2 separate regions of the Homo sapiens genome follow, and region 2 is linked to region 1. The links come from fine-mapping of genetic effects on gene expression. A gene starts in region 1. The other region holds a variant in brackets. All regions are shown on one strand. Distances are between the middles of the regions.

Region 1 (12,856 bases):
TGCTGTAAGTGGGAGTGTAAATTAGTAAAATCACTAGATATGTTTTACACTATCTTGCTATTATATTCCTACAGAAACTCCTACACACACACACACACACACACACACACACACACACACACACACACAGAGTGGACCTGTGCAAGAAAGATCAAGGCAGTATTATTGCTCCTAATATCCCCAAGCTGGAGACAATTTAAATGTCCAATGGTAGGTAAATGGTTAAATAAATTGTGCTTTATTCACCTGTATACATAATGAAAAATAAGCAAACTATAGCCATATTTAATAGCATAGATGAATCTTAGAAATATAATATTGAGTGAAAAAAGTAACATAAAATATTCCAGTTTTCATAAAACTCAAAAACAAAAAATAAAACAAATAATTCTGGAATACTTATATCTATTGTAAGAATATATTCAATAAGTAAGGGAATTTAAAAAAAATACTCAGAATATGGGTTACTACCAAATTAAAGTGGGGTAAGGTTAGGGAAAAATTCATAAAAAGCTTCAAAAATCTTGAGTAATAGCCTAGTTTTTAGCTGGTGAATTAATGGGTGTTCATGTTATCATTATGCTTGGTAATTTCCATGCTCTGTATCTATATTTATCTACATATGTGTGTGTTAATACCACATATTTCATAATTAAAAGAATTTAAATAAAATAAATTGATTCTCAACAAAAGCAAAAGAGTTCAACAGGAAAAGGAAAGTCCTTTTTACAAATGGTGCTGGAAAAAGATATTCATATAAAAAAATAATAACCTCAACTTCTACTGATACATCCACAAAAATCTAAGATGGAACATAGGCTTAAGCGTAAAAGGTAAAACTGTTAGTCTTCTAATTGAAAACATAAGCGAATATCTTTACAACCTTAGGCTAGGCAAAGATTTCTTAGACACAATAGAACAAAGCACTAGCCACAAAAGACAATTTTGACAAAGTAGACTTCATCAAAATTAAAAACATCTGCATATCCAAAGGCACCCCTGAGAAAATAAAAATTCGAGTTAAAGGGAAATATTATTTACATCTGTCTGTATATACATATGACATTATGTATATATATGACCTTTTAAAATCAAACATATGTGTGTCTGTATATAATTGACCTGTATTCGGAGTCTATAAAGAAATACCACAATTCAATAATAAAACAAGCCAATACATAAATAGGTAAAAGTCACAAACATATTTTCACACAAGGCATGAAAATAATAAGCACATGAAAAAGTTCTTAATATCATTAATTGGGGGAAATGCAAATGAAAATCACAATGACAAACCTTTAACTTCTACAATGGCTAAAATTTAAATGACTGGCAGTAACAAGTGTTGAGAATGTGGAAGTGGAGCTTTGCTATATTGCTAGTGGGAGCGTAAAATGGCAAAAGAATTTTGGAAAATATTTGGAAAACTTTTCTAAAGTTAAAAATATCCCTAACTTATGACTCAGAAATTCCACTCTTTAACCAAGAAAAATGAAAACATTTGTCCATAAAAAAAAACACTGTATGAGTATGTTCATAGGAACTGTACTCTTAATAGCTAAAAACCAGAAGCAATGCAAATGTCCCATAAGTGAATCAATTAACATATTTGTACCATGAAATTCTATTTAACAAAAATGGAACAAACATGTCAAAACATGGATATACTCAAAAACATAAAGTTTATGAAAGAAGCAGACACAAAAGAGTTCATACTGTATGACTCCATTTAAATGTAATTCCAGAACTATAGTTCTAAACTATAGTATTAATAAAAAAATCAGAAGATAGTACTGTAGATGGGGGAGAGGGGTTGAATAAGCAGAGAAACAGAGGAACTTTCTGTAGTGGTAGAAATATTCTCTATCTCGATTGTGGTGGTAGTGGTTTTATGGATGAGTACATGCATCAAAACTCATTAAATTGGCCACTTAAAATCAATGTGTTTTAATATGTATCAAATTTTATCTCACACAAAATAAAACAGCTTATGAGAAGATAAACACTGCTATACATTTTCAAAGCATCAAACGTAACTAGAAAATTGTAAACATTTCAGACAGAAAAAACTGATTCTGCTATCAACAAGTTAAAGTGAGACTGGCATTCTCATCAGCAATAATGAAAGTCAGAAGAGAGCCTGGTGCAGTGGCTTGTGCCTGTGATCCCAGATACTTGAGAGGCTGAGGTGGGAGGATCACGTGAGGTCAGGAGTTTCAGACCAGACTGAGCAACACAGTGAGACTCCAGCTCAAAAAAAAGGAAAAAAAAAAAGTTAGAAGACATGGAAGGATTGAGAGTTGAAGGAAAATACTTTTGATTCTATATACAGCCAAATTATCAGTCATAAGAGCAAATTATAATTTACAGCTATACGAACATTAAAAAATAAAATTACCTTTCACTTGCCTTTTGTGAGCAAGTTTCCTTAGGATATATTCCAGGGAAATAGGGGGAAGCCCAATAACAGAAGATGAGGGGCTAAGAAACAATGTTATTTACCCAAGAATGAATATAAGCCCAGGATAGGAGCAATACAAAAGGACTAGAATGCAATCTGTTCAAATTAAACAGAAAGCCATTGGGCTTTAAGGGGAAAATCTTCAAACAGAGGAATGGAAGCTTGCTTCTATGTGCATCATACAAAGAATGAGAAGATTCAGTGAAGAAAGCACATCCACCTACCTATTCCCCAGGAGAAAGCAGAAAGGCAATTAAGAAAGTGGGGACGGTTAAAAACTATGTATTACATACTCCAAAATATAAAGCATGCTCAACTACAGCATATTTTGCCCTTGGCAGGAAAGAAATAAAAACCCATTTGACCTTGATATCATAAATAATCTCCTTAGTATGGCACAGGGATCATGAAGTTAAAACTCTGGGGAAAAAAACATATCAGAGCATACAGCTTGGACTTGCTCTAAGTAACAACTATAAAGCCATAATACTGTAAACATTTTATTTTTTTTATTGGTTTTTGGCACGTGAATAAAGCGCAAATGTTATAGTTAAGAAATATATTACTAACTTTGACAATGTACAAGTAAATGTCCAGCTAAGAGAAAGTGGGCATAAATGTAGTTTCTGAAGTGATAAAGAAAAAGGTAGAATCACTACTTTTCTCGTTTTACCAAACAAGGAGTCAAATATATTTTCAAAAGTTGATGTGAAAAAAGTAGTTTACGTATATTATTTTGAATTATAAAGTAACCAATACAAAAACTAAAAATTATGATTATGACTCTTCCAAAATTCAGAGGAGATTGTGAATGGTGTGGGCTATTTCTAGAAGTCAACGGAAAAAGAATTAGCAGTTCAACTTAGGGCTATCTCAAGAAGTCAACAAAAAGAATTAACAGTTTAACTTATTATTTAACCTACAGACCTAAAATTAGAAAAGGTTAAAAGTGGTTATCTTTGAAGAACAGTACTGAGAGTAGGACAGGTGAGACAGTTGCACTTTATTATTCAATCCTACTACGCTATACTACTTGATTTTTTTTTTTTTTTTTTTTTTTTTTGAGACAGAGTCTCACTCTGTCATCAAGGCTGGAGTGCAGTGGCATGATCTCGGCTCACTGCATCCTTCCACCTCCCGGGTTCAAGCGATTCTGTGCCTCAGCCTCCAGAGTGGCTGGGATTACAGGCGCCCGCCACCACGCCCGGCTAATTTTTGTATTTTTAGTAGAGACGGGGTTTCACCATCCTGGCCAGGCTGGTCTTGAACTCCTGACCTCAGGTGATCCACCCGCCTCGACCTCCCAAAGTGCTAGGACTACAGGCGTGAGCCACCGCGCCCGACCATTTTATTTTCAATCAGATGTCTTTATCATCACATAGCTGAAAATAAAATAACCAAATAAAACACAATGATCGAAAAAGATAAAACACTAATTAGCATAATCAGTGTTCTTTTTCCACTACCTCTTAAATGGTTGTACATAAAAAGGCTCACACACAAAAATACACACACATACATTCACTTACACCTCGTGAGTGGAAGAAAACTACCGGGGGAAAAAAAACGTAGAGATGAGAGATTAGATGAGGGAAACAGCAGTGCAAGCAGTTGGGCTTGAAAATTCATTCATTCAACAAATATTTTGAAGCCCCTATTTTAAGTCAGTTGTTTTTCCAGCTGGTGGGCAAAGGATAATGAACAAGTCAGACTCTGTGCCCTCAAAGAACTTAGAGTTTTAAACGACTCGAATGGGGAAAGAAAGTAAAAAATAGGGCAAAAGACGCCGATTTTATCATGAATAAAATTTCACATTTCTTCAACAGGAAAATGATACTAATTCATTTATTTTATATATACATTCTCTCAAGAGGTTATTTTTGTCTCAAATAGATAGAAACCAGGACAGGGATCCTTGAAAAGCAGCCACTGACAATCCTCAAGTAACTTCCTTCCTCTGCTTCACTTTCTCCTACTGCTCAAGGGGGTGTTACACTTTGACGACTGACTAAACCTCGAGGGCCAGAAACAAACCAAAGCAAAATTCTGCCTCCAAGGTGAGTAATGGAGGGGCGGATTCTAGATTCTCTAACCTCCTTTAGCCTTCCTTTGAGGCAGTGACAGAGCGATTACTAAGCCTACGGTTCCCAAACGACTCAGGTGAACCTGATTTACAGGAAAGGCGGGCTGTAGCTAGGGATGGAGACAGTACCTATCAGCAAGCGGCTCCACAGCTCGGTTCTCTATCTATTCTGAAGACATGCGGGGCCACTCACTGCTCCTGATAGTCCTCTACCTCCCACAGACCCCACCCACTACGACACGGAAAACTGGATTACCCAAATACCTGCCTCTGAGTCTGGGGACGCAGGCAAGCACAAAGACAAGGGGGATGGAGCTTCTACACAGGGCCCCAGCGCTGTCGCTGTGGCTGCTGCTGCCGCTACGGCTTAGTGCACCAGACGCTGCATTTCAGGTGCTCCTACAAAAGAGGCCACTCCTGGAACGCCGGGAGCTCAGACGCTGCCCTTTGCTCGCGAGCCAAGTCAGCCAAGGTTAACCTTCGCGGAACCCGGCGAGGAGCGCAAGCCTGGCCTTCCCCAAACACAGATCCGAGCTTTTCACCCTCTACCCTCCCCTCAGCCTGGCCTTTTCTTCCGCCCTCACAGCCACCGCGACCCAACGCTGAGGAAAGACCCCGACTTGTGGTGTCCTTCCCCTTGCCCAAACTGGCCACGAAAGGACATATAGCGAGAGAGAAAGAGGTGCGGGGGGACGGGGGGGGTCGATTGAAAATACTGGGTGAGGGAATGGAAGACGAGGAGCGTGGTATGGCAGGTTAATGGGACTGAGCACAGGAAGAGGAAGAAAGAATTGAGGGTTGAATCTGTAGAACACTCAGGCTTTCAGCAAGGACACCTCATTGGGTCCTTTCTCACTGCTATAGTACGCGGGTGGCTGGACCTACATGCTTCCTGCTGTGGCTGTCTCGGAACCCGTGGTCCTCCGCTTCATGTGAGTGACGTCGTGGCGGGTCACTCACTCGGGGATCGCCGATTGCGATCGTAGGGGTCTTCCTTCTCTAACTTGCCTCCAGGAGAGAGGACCTGGCCTGCGCTGCTAATGGGTAGTCCGTTCGCAGCAGGACCAGCCCTGGCCTAAGGAAACAGGAAAGAGTTTGAGACTTCCTTCTAAAGGAGCCACGTTTGAGAAATGGGATGCAGGCCTAAGTTAAGAATGCTACAGAAAAATATCGATCCCTAAGCGTATTTACTGTTATGTGAATGTGTGTGTCAAAGGACTTAGGTGCTTTGGGGGAGAGGAGGGTGAAGACAGGAATTTATTCATTGAGCGAATAGTTATTAAGCGCCCACTCTATTCCAGACACCGTTCTAGGCATTAGGTGAACAGCAGTGAACAAAACAGACGGAAATCTGTGTCTACTTGTAGCTCACATTTTAGAGAGGAAGGCACATACTAAGCAAAGTAATTAGAAACATACTGTATTTTAGGTCGTGATAGTCCTGAAGAGAAACGTAAAGCAGGGAAGAAGGGTATAAAGTGACACAGGAAGGTCTTGCTGAAAAGATGACTTTTAAGTAAAGGGCTGACAGAAGTGGGAGATTTAACCACGCGAATATCTTGGGAAAGTGCAGTCAGACAGAGGGACCAGCCATTGCAGAGGTCATGAAGCAGAAACGTGCTAGAATAGCAAGGAGGCCTGTAGGGCAGAGTTGAGTGAAGGGTTTAGTCCTTCACTGGAGATTAAATCAAGGCGAGCAGGTCATGAAGATCTTGAGGACATCTAACTTTTATTCTAAATGAAATAGGACTTTGGAGCGTTTTGAGCAGTAGAGTGATGGGCTCTGACTTCCTTTTAAGAGGGTCACTCTTTAAGGAAAATACACAGAGGAGGACGTGGTAGGAGAAAGGAGACCAATAAGAAGAGTTTTGCAATAATCCAGAGGAAGCATAATGGTGGTTTGACTATGGGTGGTAAGAAATGGCCAGTTATATTCTTGATGCACTTAATTTGGATATGTAAGAGTATTATAGATGACAGGGTTAATTTTATTTAATTAGGCTTTGGAGGACACTTGAAAAATGAATTCCAGTGTGAGTTTCAGAGTGGCAAACACAAGTTAAAATCATGGCTTTGCTATGTGGTACTTGAAGGGATTCAGATAAGTCATGTAATTTTCCTGGATCTGTCTATAAAATGGAAATCACATCTGTCAAGATTGCAAAGGTTAGGGTATATTATAGGTATTTAATGACAAGGTATGTAATGGGTCTAGTCTGCAAATCTTAACCAGGTAAAAGATGGCCTTATTGTGAGGTAAGAGGGTCATGGGAGGCCAAGGCATACTCCTTTTTAAATTTTATGGACTCTGTACTGGGGAGGAAAGTTTTTGTGTTAATGACGATGGTATTTAGAAATGCATGGACTGGCCTCTCATAGCTGTCCACCCTATAGTCATTCCTTATAGCCATCCTTTAAACCCTCCAGGACCCCCTATGTCCTCATCAGTAAAGGGAAAGCAGGCTGTCTGGTAAGGGAAATAGGAACTTCCATAAAAAAGCAATTTTAGATATTCTTTTTATAGGTTTTGGCAAAGGTTGATAAAAGACCTAGGGAATTACTGCTGGTTGCTGCGCTTACATATTTTGAGTGTCTTCAGATGCATTGTTCTCAGTGTATTTAATTTTCTTCTTTAAATTCTGACTTTTGACACATATGATTTAAATCCTAGCAGGAATTTTCACCTAGTGCTAAAAGGTACCACATTGCTTTACACTATAATAAGGACGGTCTTTCAGTGTGGGGTATTTTATGTATACTATAATATTTTTACATATCCAGTAATTAGATTGTGTAGCAAATCAGGGAAAGAAGTTGGAAGGCAAGAATAGGAATGAAGGGAGGAGAAGAAAGGAAGAAAATGATTAAAATTACTATATTCCATCAATTCTGAGATACACATTTTTCTCTTACTTAACATCTCTGAAATAGGGATGTATTTTTAAGTTGTTGACATCTTTAAATCACTGTAGATGAATTGGCAGTTGTGAGATATTTGTCATTGCCCACACTTACACCCACTTAGTCATAACTTAATCTTGTCATTATTTCAGTTGAGTTATATATGCACTATTGGCATATAGTTGTTGAGTGTAATTTCCCTTTTAAAGATCATTTAGAAGATTATGATTAGCATTAGAATGAAAAGTTACTGTGTATGTGGGGAAACAAAGGGTGATACAAGATAAAAATCCAGGGTTAAATTTAAAAGAAGTCTGTCAATAAATAATATAGGATGTGTCTAAGTAATAAGAAAGCATTGGGTCAGTTGATTCAATAGTGTTTTTTTTCATAATGTACATAAAATAATAGAGCTTCTTGGGATTGAAGCCATTTTACAATTGATGGCATTTTAGATTTCTTGTATAGTATTTAAAGCTTCCAACAAAAATGTAAATTTTTACCTACTGTAATTCTGAAATAGGGAAATTAGAGGTTTTGAGTAGAGACACTTTCAAATTTGTGTAGCGTTCCTATATAGCATAAGAATTCTAAAATTAAAAGTCTGCCTGTAAAACTTTGATTTCAAAGTAGTAACTTACTTATGTTTGATTCCCAATGTTGTCATCGTGGGGCAGAGATTTTGCTTTTTCAAAAAGATTGCAGGCAATTTAGATGGTGTGGGTGGGGAGGACTACTGAGGAAATTGCTCAGTAAACAAAAATGATAGTGAAGATCTCAGAATCTCAAAAATCATCTTTTGTGTGTGTATTTTAATGATTAAGATGTACTATAAATTCATGTACAGTATTTGGGATTCTGCATTAGAGGCATCGTATGATTAATGGCTTTTTAGGTTTGATGAAGTATGATAATTAACATTGAGAAGGACAAAATTAATGTGAAGGGACAGAATGATTTAGATAATATGTTTCAAAAGCTTTTGTCCTAAAAAATGCATTATTACCATTTTAATTTAGTAAAGGAAAAAGAAAAGGTCTTGATCCTCACCAAACACAATTAACATACTTGGTCTACAGTTTTCTGTGCTTCTCTCTTCATAAATGTTTTATATTTTCAATTACTGTGCATGTCATTCTTATATCTATTTTAATCTCACAGTCTTAATTTTTTTACATTTTAGTCCAGAGACTTAAACTAGCATTTCCTAAACTGTTTTAGAGAATACTAGTTCAAATAAATGTTAATAGCTGTTCCTGTGTTAGGATTCTGTCATTAAATATATTGGAAAATGCTTCGTAATTATATCCTTTAGAGAAATTATAGCTAGAGCATTAAAAGAGCTAACTGCAGCATCAGACAGACCTGAGTTTCAATCCTCGTTTACTATGTATTACATGAGGCAAATTAATTTTAATTCAAGTTTTCTTCTCTGTATAATGGAGATTATTACAGTATTCGAAATTGACTTGTGTAAAGCATTTAGCCAGCCATAGCGCATGTTCTACAAATATATGTAGTTGTTATTATCATCTATGAGAAACTTTATACATATTAGAAACTCTGAGGATTTAAAATTTTGAAGGTTGACTTATACTCAATGTAAAATTGAAAAATCACAGGGGAGTAATTAGCATAGAGATTAATGAAATGAGCACTGGGTTGAATGGTAAAAGATTTGTTTGAGCTTTAAGCAGTATTGTTGTTAAACTATCACTGTGCCCTAAGCGTAACATTATTTTAAAAATGTCTTCAACTGTGTTTCCCCCATTTGTCTGAAAGCTTAGTTAGTTCAAAGAACATGTTTATTTTTGTTCTCTACTATAAACCCAGCACATGACACAAAATCAGGGAGTGTAAAGTTGGGGTCATGAACTTATTTTAGGAGCCTGGTAGGTAATATAAATGGCAGACAACAGGGAGTAGTAAAGTGTCTGTCTGTCTTACTTAAAGACATTCACATCAGTTATTTCCAACACTGTTAGCCCTGGAAAAGAAAGCTATCCCTGAACTTTGTCAGGCTAGTTTGTGATCCCTAGAAAAGATTAGTGATTAAGACCAAACCCTGAAGAACAGCATCATTAATGGGACAGATTAAAAAAAAAAGGAGCCCTGAAAGGAGGTGACAAGGAAGTAGGAGGTGAAATCAGGTACAAGTAATTTTTTAAATTAAGAAAAGTATAGCCCTCTCCCTCTCCCTCTCCCTCTCCGCACCGTCTCCCTCTGATGCCGAGCCGAGGCTGGACTGTACTGCCACCATCTTGACTCACTGCAACCTCCCTGCCTGATTCTCCTGCCTCAGTCTGCCGAGTTCCTGGGATTGCAGGTGCGCGCCGCCACTCCTGACTGGTTTTTGTATTTTTTGGTGGAGACGGGGTTTCACCGTGTTGGCCGGGCTGGTCTCCAGCTCCTGACCGCGAGTGATCTGCCAGCCTCGGCGTCCTGAGGTGCCGGGATTGCAGACGGAGTCTCGCTCACTCAGTGCTCAATGTTGCCCATGCTGGAGTGCAGTGGCGTGATCTTGGCTCGCTACAACCTCCACCTCCCAGCCGCCTGCCTTGGCCTCCCAAAGTGCCGAGATTGCAGCCTCTGCCCGGCCGCCACCCCGTCTAGGAAGTGAGGAGCGTCTTTGCCTGGCCGCCCATCGTCGGGGATGTGAGGAGCCCCTCTGCCCGGCCGCCCAGTCTGGGAAGTGAGGAGCACCTCTTCCCGGCCGTCATCCTGTCTAGGAAGTGAGGAGCGTCTCTGCCCAGCCGCCCATCATCTGGGATGTGGGGAGCATCTCTGCCCCGTCGCCCCGTCTGAGATGTGAAGAGCGCCTCTGCCCGGCCGCGACCCTGTCTGGGAACTGAGGAGTGTCTCTGCCCCGCCGCCACCCCGTCTGGGAGGTGAGGAGCGTCTCTGACCGGCTGCCCGGTCTGAGAAGTGAGGAGCCCCTCCGCCCGGCAGCCGCCCCGTCTGGGAAGTGAGGAGCGTTTCCGCTTTCCGCCCGGCAGCGGCCCCGTCCGGGAGGTGGGGGGCAGCCCCCGCCCGGCCGGCGCCCCGTCTGGGAGGTGGAGGGCGCCTCTGCCCGGCCGCCCCATCTGGGAAGTGAGGAGCCCCTCTGCCCGGCCGCCACCCCGTCTGGGAGGTGTACCCAACAGCTCATTGAGAACGGGCCATGATGACGATGGCAGTTTTGTCGAATAGAAAAGGGGGAAATGTGGGGAAAAGAAAGAGAGATCAGATTGTTACTGTGTCTGTGTGGAAAGAAGTAGACATAGGAGACTCCATTTTGTTCTGTACTAAGAAAAATTCTTCTGCCTTGGGATGCTGTTAATCTATAACCTTACCCCCAACCCCGTGCTCTCTGAAACATGTGCTGTGTCCACTAAGGGTTAAATGGCCCCTGCTCTCTGAAACATGTGCTGTGTCCGCTAAGGGTTAAATGGCCCGTGCTCTCTGAAACGTGCTGTGTCCACTAAGGGTTAAATGGATTAAGGGCGGTGCAAGATGTGCTTTGTTAAACAGATGCTTGAAGGCAGCATGCTCCTTAAGAGTTATCACCACTCCCTAATCTCAAGTACCCAGGGACAAACACTGCAGAAGGCGGCAGGGCCCTCTGCCTAGGAAAACCAGAGACCTTTGTTCATATGTTTATCTGCTGACCTTCCCTCCACTATTGTCCTATGACCCTCCCAAATCCCCCTCTCCAAGAAACACCCAAGAATGATCAATAAATACTAAAAAAAATTAAAAAAAAAAAGTATAGAAAATTTAGATAACTTTACCAAGGTCACACAGTCTAAGTATATATAAGCAAGCCCAAGGGTATATATACCCATGTTCCTCTGCCAGTGCTAGTGATCATTATCTGCATGTTACTAGAAAACATTAACATAAACTTATGCATCCAACCTATATTTTTAAAAAATTTAAATGATAATTAATCAACAAGTATTAGAAAACCTGTTTCCAGAGCTTCTGTTCTAAAGACAGCAAATGGCTTTTAGCACTTGAGCACAGTTCTGTTAACACACAGACGTAACTAGAAGTGAAATATTTTTAGATTTCACAAGATGAGACTTTTTAACATTGGCATCATGAATAATATTTCCAGATACCCAGTTATCTAGGACTGGAGAAGAAGTAGAGTCTGGGCGCCAGTGCAATGGCTCACACCTGTAATCCCAGCACCTTGGGAAGCCGAGGTGGGCAGATCAGTTGAGGGAGGTCAGGATTTCGAGACCAGCCTGGCCAACATGGTGAAACCCCATCTCTACTAAAAATTCAAAAATTAGTCAGGTGGCAGGCACCTGTAATCCCGGCTATTTGGGAGGCTAAGGCAGGAGAATCGCTTGAACCCAGGAGACGGAGGTTGCAGTGAGCCAAGATCGTGCCACTGCACCCCAGCCTGGGTGAAAAAGGAAGACTCTGTCTCAAAAAAAAAAAAAAAAAGTTTTATCACTTCTTTTTATCACATTGTTTCCTTTTAGTAGTTGCATATGTGTATTTAGTGTTTAGTTCATTTGTATTTCTGTATTTTGAAACATGACATTCTCTTTCCTAAACTTATGCTTGTTCTTCAATATGTATTATAAAAGTCATATTTTATGTAACTAACTATTCCACTTATATTTTGCAAATAGTTAACAGATTTATCAACTCAGTAAAATTGTATTTTTTTCTCTTAGGCTAGGATTTATTATCTCTATTTTCAAAATTACTGTTATTCTTAGAAGATTTTTTATATGTTTCTGTATGAGTCAGAACATGAGTTTCTTTTTTTGATTTTTCAGCAACTTGGTGGGTATTTATTTTTGAAGGACTGTCTAGAACTGTTGGCTTATTTATGAGCATTATTCTTTATGGACTATTATTTTAACAGTTTAGAAAAATACAGACCAAAAGAGCACAAAAATTCAAATGAAGATACCACCTTTAAACTCTGCTATTTTTACCAAAATGAACACAGAATACCATGTTGTTACTTAAACGTTTGCAAAGCCAGAATTGTAGAGAAAATATCTTAATAGAAATGGATATATGAAGAAAGTTAAAGTAAAAAAAAAAAAAAAACTATGCTCTTCTGAATTTTAGTATCCTGAGTACAGCATTTCTTTAGTTTTTGATGTCTTTTTATTTTAGTCTAACATAAGTAATGATGAAATATACTCAATAGGTAAAATGTAGCTATCACAAACAATAATGAGTATCTGATTAGGCAGAATTGGCAAGTTTTACATCTCTAGCAAAGACATATTTGATGAATAATACTAAAATGAATGAATTGGTGCATTTTAGAAAAATACATTTTGAAAAGATATGGCTCAAATCATCTTATTCAAATTTCAAAATTAAGAGAAAAACTAGAAAACTAGTATCAGCTAATATGAAACAAGTAGATTTAAGTATAGACTGATGCTCAAAAA
Region 2 (8,000 bases), 28 kb before region 1:
TCAGCCCTTCTTGCAGGTGCAGGTGCTTACTTTTGGTAGTAAAGGAAAGAACTAATTTATAAACCTTAAGAACATCTTCTCACTTTCTATAAACAGGTTATAAAATTGATTAAAATTGCAGTACATCAACTCTACACATATACCTGCTCTGTTACTGGAGACTAATGTAATCCAAATATGTGGAAAAGTCAAATAGTTCTCAGCAAAATTAATTTAGATGGATGGATCAGATAACAACTTGGAACTGAACCTAAAAGGATCATTCCTACTAAAAGGCAGTAAGTACTGAATGTTATATTCCAAAATGTACAAAGAAAACACTGACTTTTAGTCTATTATCAGAATAATTTAAAAATAGTACTTTATTTACACAAATGCTTAAATACATCTCAATGGAAAAAATGGAAAGACCTGTTAAGGCTACTATATGTTCTATTTAAAAGAAAAAAGAAAATGTAACTGGCATAAAAGATCATGTAAATTTTGCATTTAATCCTACTCATGTTAATATACATCCTCAAAGAATGTGCTTCCATCTACACTATTTTATCCTCATGAAGACAAAAGCAAAATCATTGAAGAAACCACTGATGTTCATTGCCACAAGATTTGTCGTCTTTCAAACAAAGATAAAAAATGGTAAGCACAGAAATGCAAAACTTTTCATGAGCTAATGATTTAATCATACTGGCAAAGCAATATTGATTGTATCCTTATATAATACAATTCAAAGTTCAAAAACATTTTTAAAAAAGGTTGGGGGATGGTGGCTCATGCCTGTGCCTGTAATCCCAACACCTGGGAGGCTAAGGCAAGAAGATCACTCGGGCCTAGGAGTTCAACACCAGCCTAGGCAACATAATGAGACCCCTGTATATACAAAAAATAAAAAAATAGCCATGTATGGTGATGCACACCTGTGGTCCCAGGTACTAGGGTGGTTGAGGTGGAAGGATCGCTTGAGCCCAGGAGGTCAAGGCTACAGTAAGCAGCGATCACAGTAAGCGAGGTCAAGGCTACAGTAAGCAGCGATCACAGTAAGCAGTGATCGCACTACTGCACTCCAGCAGCCTGGGTGACAAAGCGAGAACCTGTCTCAAAAAAACAAAAAGGCAGGAGGGGTGGGGGTGGAATAGAGTTGAGGTAAAACAATGAAAACGGAAATTTATCTTTTGAATCACCAACTTCTTTCGCCTCAGTTCCTTTACCAAGTAAAAGAAGGACCATATACAGGCAGAGGGGGAAATGTGGAGATAAGAGACTACCATACTGATGACCAGAGGACTGCTCTCTTTGTGGCTTATGGGGTCCTCTGGAACTTCGGGGTGTTCTGGAACTTTTGGGAGCACAAGACCATGGATAACATCAATTTTCAGGATGTATAGCAATTCTGATCATAGCTATGTCCATAAAGACCCTATTTCACCTGTGGGACTTCTGGATATTCCCTTAATACTCTACCCCCTATTCTTAGTGTATAATCCTTTCTTTTTTCTACCCCAAATACTTTAAACAAATATGAATAATTTTAAGAATTCCAGATATTTTTCAGTTAGCATTAATATTGATTTAGCATGTCACTCCTGTTTTGTAGGAGTGTTTTTTCAAAAGTATTTGTATGGTCTCTAAGACATTTGTGGTAGTCAGCCTCCAGGATGGCCCCCAATGAGCCATGACTCATGAAATTCACATGTGCATTCTTGAGCAATCCTCTCCAACACAGAATACAGTTAATGGCTGACCTGTGTAAACTAACAGGATATTGCATTGCAGGAATAACAGTGTGTGTTTGTTGACACTAGGTTACCAAAGCCACTGTAGCTTCCACCTTGTTTTCTTTCCTTAGATTGTTCACTCTGAGAGAAGCCAACCACCATGCTTTGAGCATGTCAAGAGGCCTGTGGAAAGGCCCTCAATGTAGAAAAGAATTAAGCCTCTTGTCAACAACTAGCACCTTCTTTATAAGTAAACCATCTTAGAAACAGATCACCCAACTCCAGAAAAGCTTTTATAACAGATGACTGGAGGTCCAGCTGTTATCTTGACTGAAATCTTGTGAGACCTTGAGCTAGAACCATCTAGTTATGCTATTCCTATGTTCTGATCCAAAGGAATTATATGAGTTAATAAATTTTTATTGTTGTTTTAAGCCACAAAGTGTTGAGGTAACTTGTTAAGCAATAACTAATTCATACTCTTTCTTCTAAAAACCAAAAAATTAAAAAAGTCAGTGGCTCAAACATCTTCATTAACAACACAATACTGTTTCTCTATGAGGGATTGAGAACTCAAGCCAAGTGAATAACTCAACAACCCTTTCTTAAAAAAAAAAAAAAAAAAAATTAAGGTATGCAATCCCAGAACTCTGGGAGGCCGAGGCAGGCAGACTGCCTGAGCTCAGGAGTTCGCGACCAGCCTGGGCAACACGGTGCAACCCTGTCTGTACTAAAATACAAAAAATTAGCCAGGCATGGCGGTGTATGCCTGTAGTCCCAGCTACTCAGGAGGCTGAGACAGGAGAATCACTTGAACCTGGGAGGTGAAGCTTGCAGTGAGCTGAGATCGTACCACCGCACTCCAGCCGGGGCGACAAAGCGAGACTCCGTCTCAAAAAAAAAAATTAAATTAAGGTATAATTTACATAGGTAAAATGCATATATTATACATTTTCAGTGCATATTTCATTTAGTTATGACACACATACACCATATAGGTAATATCTGATCAAGATACAAAAATGTTCATCCCCTTAAAAAGTTCCCTCAAGGCCATTTTGAATCAGTTCTTGAATTACCCCTTACTCTCTAACAGAATAAAGCACTGTTTTTCTATCACCGAAGATAAATACCGATAATCTTCTATGTCTGGCTTCTTTTGCTCAGCGTAATATTTATAAGGTTAATCCACATGTTGTGGGTACCAGTAGCTCTTTCTTTTTCATTGTTGATTAACAGGTTGAGCATCCCTAATCTGAAAATCTGCAATCCAAAATGTTCCAAAATCCAAAATTTTTTGGGCAACAATATGATACCACAAGTAGAAAATTCCACACATAAGTATTTAGTGTAAACTTTGCTTCATGCACAAAATTATTTAAAGTATTACATAAAATTACACCCAGGCTATGTGTATAAGCTATCATTCAAACATAAATGAAGTTCGTGTTTACACTTAAGTCCCATCTACAACATAGCTCACTATGTAAATGCAAATACTCCAAAATCTGGGAAAAACAAATCCCAAATCCGAAACACTTCTGGTCCCAAACATTATGGATAAAGAATTATCAATCTGTACCATGTTTATGCATTCTCCTGTCCATGGACATTTGAGTTCTACCCAGTTTAGAGCTATAATGAAGAATGTTTCTGGGAATATTCTAGTGCAAATCTTTTTGCATAGGTGGACATGTATTTTTCTGTTCTCTTGGATAAATACCTAGACAGAGCTGGGACTAGAGTGAGGCAAATGAAGTACTACAGTACAAAATTTAAGGAGGCCTTATAACTAGGACTGGAATTGCTGGATCATAAAATAGATGTTTCTATTAATAATTTAGCCTTTTTTATAGCATTGAAATTTTAAATGTAGACTTGCCATAGGTTCTTCTGTCAAGAAATCTACCATTTAAACAAAGAGCAATAGTAGGTTAACATATTAGTCTATAAAAATATAACAAATTATATTTATGAAGACAATTGATCAGCCAGGCGCGGTGGCTCATGCCTGTAATCCCAGCACTTTGAGAGGCTGAGGCGGGCAGATCATGAGGTCAGGAGTTCGAGACCAGCCTGGCCAATATGGTGAAACCCCATCTCTACTAAAAATACAAAAATTACCCAGGCATGGTGGGCATGCCTGTAGTCCCAGCTGCTCAGGAGGCTGAGACAGAAGAATCACTTGAACCCGGGAGGCAGAGGTTGCAGTGAGCCGAGATCATGCCACTGCACTCCAGCCTGGGTGACAGAGCGAGACTCTGTCTCAAAAAAAAAAAAGAAAAAAAAAAAGACGATTGATGTATTATCAGATATGATGCATATTAAATAAAACATTAAGTTAAGAATAACTTGTGCTACAATGATCTCTCAATCAGTAAAACTCCTTGTTTTACAGATAAGGAAAATGATTAAGAGACTTGTCCAAGGATGCCTAACTAGTTAGGGCATATTGCATCACACATATTGCATTGTAAATGCATATTTTCATCATACATATTGCATTGTAAATCTTTACACAAATTTAACCCAGGCTCAACTAAAATATTTTTTCTTACCTAAAGTTGTGGGCATAATTGGTTTTCAATTTTAATGTCAACTAGCTTTTAAAGAAAATTGCTTTTTAGCAGCAGGAGACTGTAAATTTGAACTAGTGAGCAAGGAATAATATATTATTTTATTTATTTATTTATTTAGAGATGGAGTTTCACTCTGTTGCCCAGGCTGGAGTGCAGTGGCGTGATCTCGGCTCACTGCAATCTCCGCCTCCCGGGTTCACGCCATTCTCCTGCCTCAGCCTCCTGGGTAGCTGGGACTACAGGCGCCTGCCACCACGCCTGGTTAATTTTTTGTATTTTTAGTAGAGACAGGGTTTCACCATGTTAGCCAGATGGTCT[C/T]GATCTCCTGACCTCGTGATCCGCCCACCTTGGCCTCCCAAAGTGCTGGGATTACAGGCATGAGCCACCACACCCGGCCGGAATAATATATTCTTTTAAATAAAAATCAAAGATTAGTGACATTACAAAAATTATAACTATAAAAACACATTTACTAAATAAGGTTAAACTATTTCTAAATACATATAAAAGTTATTTTTCTTACCTATAGTCAGATTAGACTTTTCTAAGGAAGGATGTAAGGCTATAGTGTACAACAGGGGTTCCCAACCCCCCCACCATGGACTAGTCCTGGACCCTGTACCTAGGACTGCGCAGCAAGAGGTGTGCAGCAGGCAAGCCAGCAAAGCTCCATCTGTATTTACAGTTGCTCCCCATCGCTACATTACCACCTGAGCTCTCTGCCTCCTGTCAGATCAGCAGCAGCACTGATTCTCATAGGAGCACGAACCCTACTGTGAACCATGCATGCGAGTGATCAGGGTTGCGGGCTCCTTATAAGAATCTAACGCCTGATCATCTGAGGTGGAGCTGAGGCAGTGATGCTAGCGCTGGGGAGTGGCTGCATATACAGATTAACATTAATAGAGAGGTTTGACTGCACAGAGACCATAATAAATCAATTACTTGCAGACTCATCAAAACCCTATCAGTGAGAGGCAAGTGACAATTAAGCTGTATCTGGTGGTAGGCTTTTGAGTGGCAAGTGAGTTGATGTACTTCAAGTGTACAGCTGCATCTGGTGGCAGGCTTTAAGTCAAAATGCAACATTTATTTTAGTCTGCACGTGGCCTGCCTATTATTTTATTTACCTCTTCCATCTGCACCTCCTTCCCACACTGCACACTTGTCTTGGTCACAGTTTTGATAAGCCTACAAGCTAACCCCTAGTCACAATGAGTAAAAACCAAACATCACTGGAGACCTTCTTTAAAAAGGGGGAAAGACCCCATGATGAGACAGCAGAAGACTCTAAGACTGCCAACAAAAAGAAAGCTTCATTTAAAAGAAAATACCAACAGTCCTACTTAAATTATAGGTTCATTGTAACAGATGATTCACATTCTCCAAGTATGCTTTGTATGCTATGTGGCGACCAGCTATCCAATGAAGCCATAAAACCTTCAAAACTGCTTTGTCACATGGAGACCAAGCAGACTGATTAAAAGACAAGTCTTCGCAGTTTTTCAAAAGAAAAAAACATGAACACGAAGAACTGAAGTAATTACTGAAAGCCACCACTTCATCAAACGTGTTGACACTAAGAGCATCATTCTTAGCGACTAACTACATAGCTAAAGCTAAGAAGCCCTTTACTATCGGTGAAGATTTGATCCTGCCTGCTGCTAAAGACATCTGTCATGAAATTTTAGGAGAGGATGCCGATCAAAAGGTAGCACGTGTTCCTCTTTCGACTAGCACCATAACTAGACAAACTGATGAAATAACAGAGGATATTGAGGCACAATTGCTAGAATCAATGAGTCACCATGGTACACAATTCAGACTGATGAGTTGACCGATGTTGACAACAATGCAACAATGCTTGCTTTTGTGCAATATATTTTTCAGGAGGATATGCATGAGGATATTTATGTGCACTTTTGTTGCTAATAAACACCAAAGCTGCAGAACTATTCAAGTCTTTGAATGATTAAATATCAGAGAAACTGAATTGGTCACTTTACATCGGTATATGCAGACACAGCGGCCACCATGACTGGACGGCTTTCTGGTTTCACTTCTCAGGTCAAAAAGGTTGCTTCTAAATGTGAGTCTATGCACTGTGCCATCCATACAGAAATGCCGGCTACCTGAAAAATGTCACCTGAACTTAACAACGTTTTGCAGGATATGATTAAAATTATCAACCTCATTAAAGTATATGCCCTTGGCTGGGCGCGGTGGCTGACACTTGTAATCCCAGCACTTTGGGAGGCTGAGGTGCGTGGATCATGAGGTCAGGAGATCGAGATCATCCTGGCTAACACGGTGAAACCCTGTCTCTATTAAAAATAAAAAAATTAGCAAGGCATGGTGGTGGGCGCCTGTAGTCCCAGCTACTCAAAAGGCTGAGGCAGGAGAATGGCATGAACCCGGGAGGAGGAGCTTGCAGTGAGCCAAGATCACGCCACTGCACTCCAGCCTGGGCGACAGAGCAAGACTCCATCTCAAAAAAAAAAAAAAAAGTACATGCCCTTAACTCATATCTGTTCATGCAGCTCTGTGAGGAGATGGACACAGAGCATACACGTCTTCTCTTAAACACAGAAGTAGGTGGCTTTCTAAAGGTGGATCACTGGCCAGAGTTTTGAGTTATGAGAGCTGTTCCAGAGATTTCTTTTAGAAAAATAGTCACCACTGGCAGCACATTTCAGTGACACAGAATAGGTCACAAAGCTTGCTTCCTTATGTGACATATTCAACCTGCTCAACAAACTCAATCTGTCACTTCAGGAGAGAACAACTCTGTTCAAGTTCGCAGATAAAGTGGCTGCATTCAAAGCCAAACTGGAATTATGGGGGTGGCAAGTGAACACTGGGATTTCTGACATGTTTCAAACATTAGCAGAGATTTTGAAAGAGGCTGAGCCAGGGCCTTCTTTCTCCCAACTGGTGCAGATCACCTATCTCAGCTTTCAAAAGAGTTTAAGCATTACTTCCCAACCACAAAGGACCCCTGAATGGGAAGGAATAGATCCGCAACCCATTTGTGAATAAACCAGGTGAATTGACTTCATCTGTGCTAGAAGAGGATCAACTAGACAATATCAAATCTCCATACATTCTAGATTAAAGTCAAGACAGAATATCCCAAGATTGGCACAAAATCACTCCTTTTCAGCCTGCTTCCATTTCCAACATCCTATCTTTGTGAAGCAGGGTTTTCTGCAGTGACAGCAACCAAAACGAGATTACAGAGCAGAATGAACATAAGCAACAGACTTTGGGTGTCACTGTCTCCCATCATCCCCACATAGAACCTTCTAGTTGCAGGAAAGCAAGCTCAGGGATCCCACTGACTCTACATTATGGTGAGTTATATAATTACTTCATTATATATTACAATATAATAAAAATAGAAATAAAGTACACAGTAAATGTAATGCGCTTGTATCATCCCAAAATCATCCCTCCACCCTCCATCCATGGAAAACCTGTCTTCCACAAAACTAGTCCCTGGTGCCAAAAAGTTTGGGGACTGCTGGTATATACATGATATCTGCATTTTTCATTCTAGAGGCTACCCAAAACCAAATCATTTAAAGGAGCAATAATAGCACTTTTATTCAATTTATTTGTTTTGCTTCTATCAAATTACTACCATTTATTAAGATAAATGCTTTTCTTCCCTTGAAAAAGATTTTTCATCTAGAATATTGTGGTA

Evidence for each region. PIP is the estimated chance that this variant, and not a neighbour inherited with it, causes the effect. A credible set is the group of variants that fine-mapping cannot tell apart.
Region 2: its variant is the best candidate, but not a certain one, in a credible set for the expression of TBCK in whole blood (TOPMed, PIP 0.54).

Annotation. Positions count from the first base shown.
Region 1 is chr4:106,311,119-106,323,974 of GRCh38, forward strand. It overlaps TBCK (TBC1 domain containing kinase), which reads right to left and starts at 5,091. Exons shown (of 26, transcript NM_001163435.3): 1 at 4,813-5,091. It overlaps AIMP1 (aminoacyl tRNA synthetase complex interacting multifunctional protein 1), which reads left to right and starts at 5,432. Exons shown (of 7, transcript NM_001142416.2): 1 at 5,432-5,476. RefSeq lists enhancers at 4,671-4,760, 4,841-4,900, 5,391-5,640.
Region 2 is chr4:106,285,785-106,293,784 of GRCh38, forward strand. The region is part of intron 3 of TBCK (TBC1 domain containing kinase); the gene reads right to left. LOC124900750 (a long non-coding RNA gene) reads left to right here. Exons shown (of 3, transcript XR_007058217.1): 2 at 97-278. Among named protein-coding and RNA genes, the nearest start is that of TBCK, 26 kb to the right of the region's middle. The variant C/T (reference allele first, on the strand shown) is at 4,613.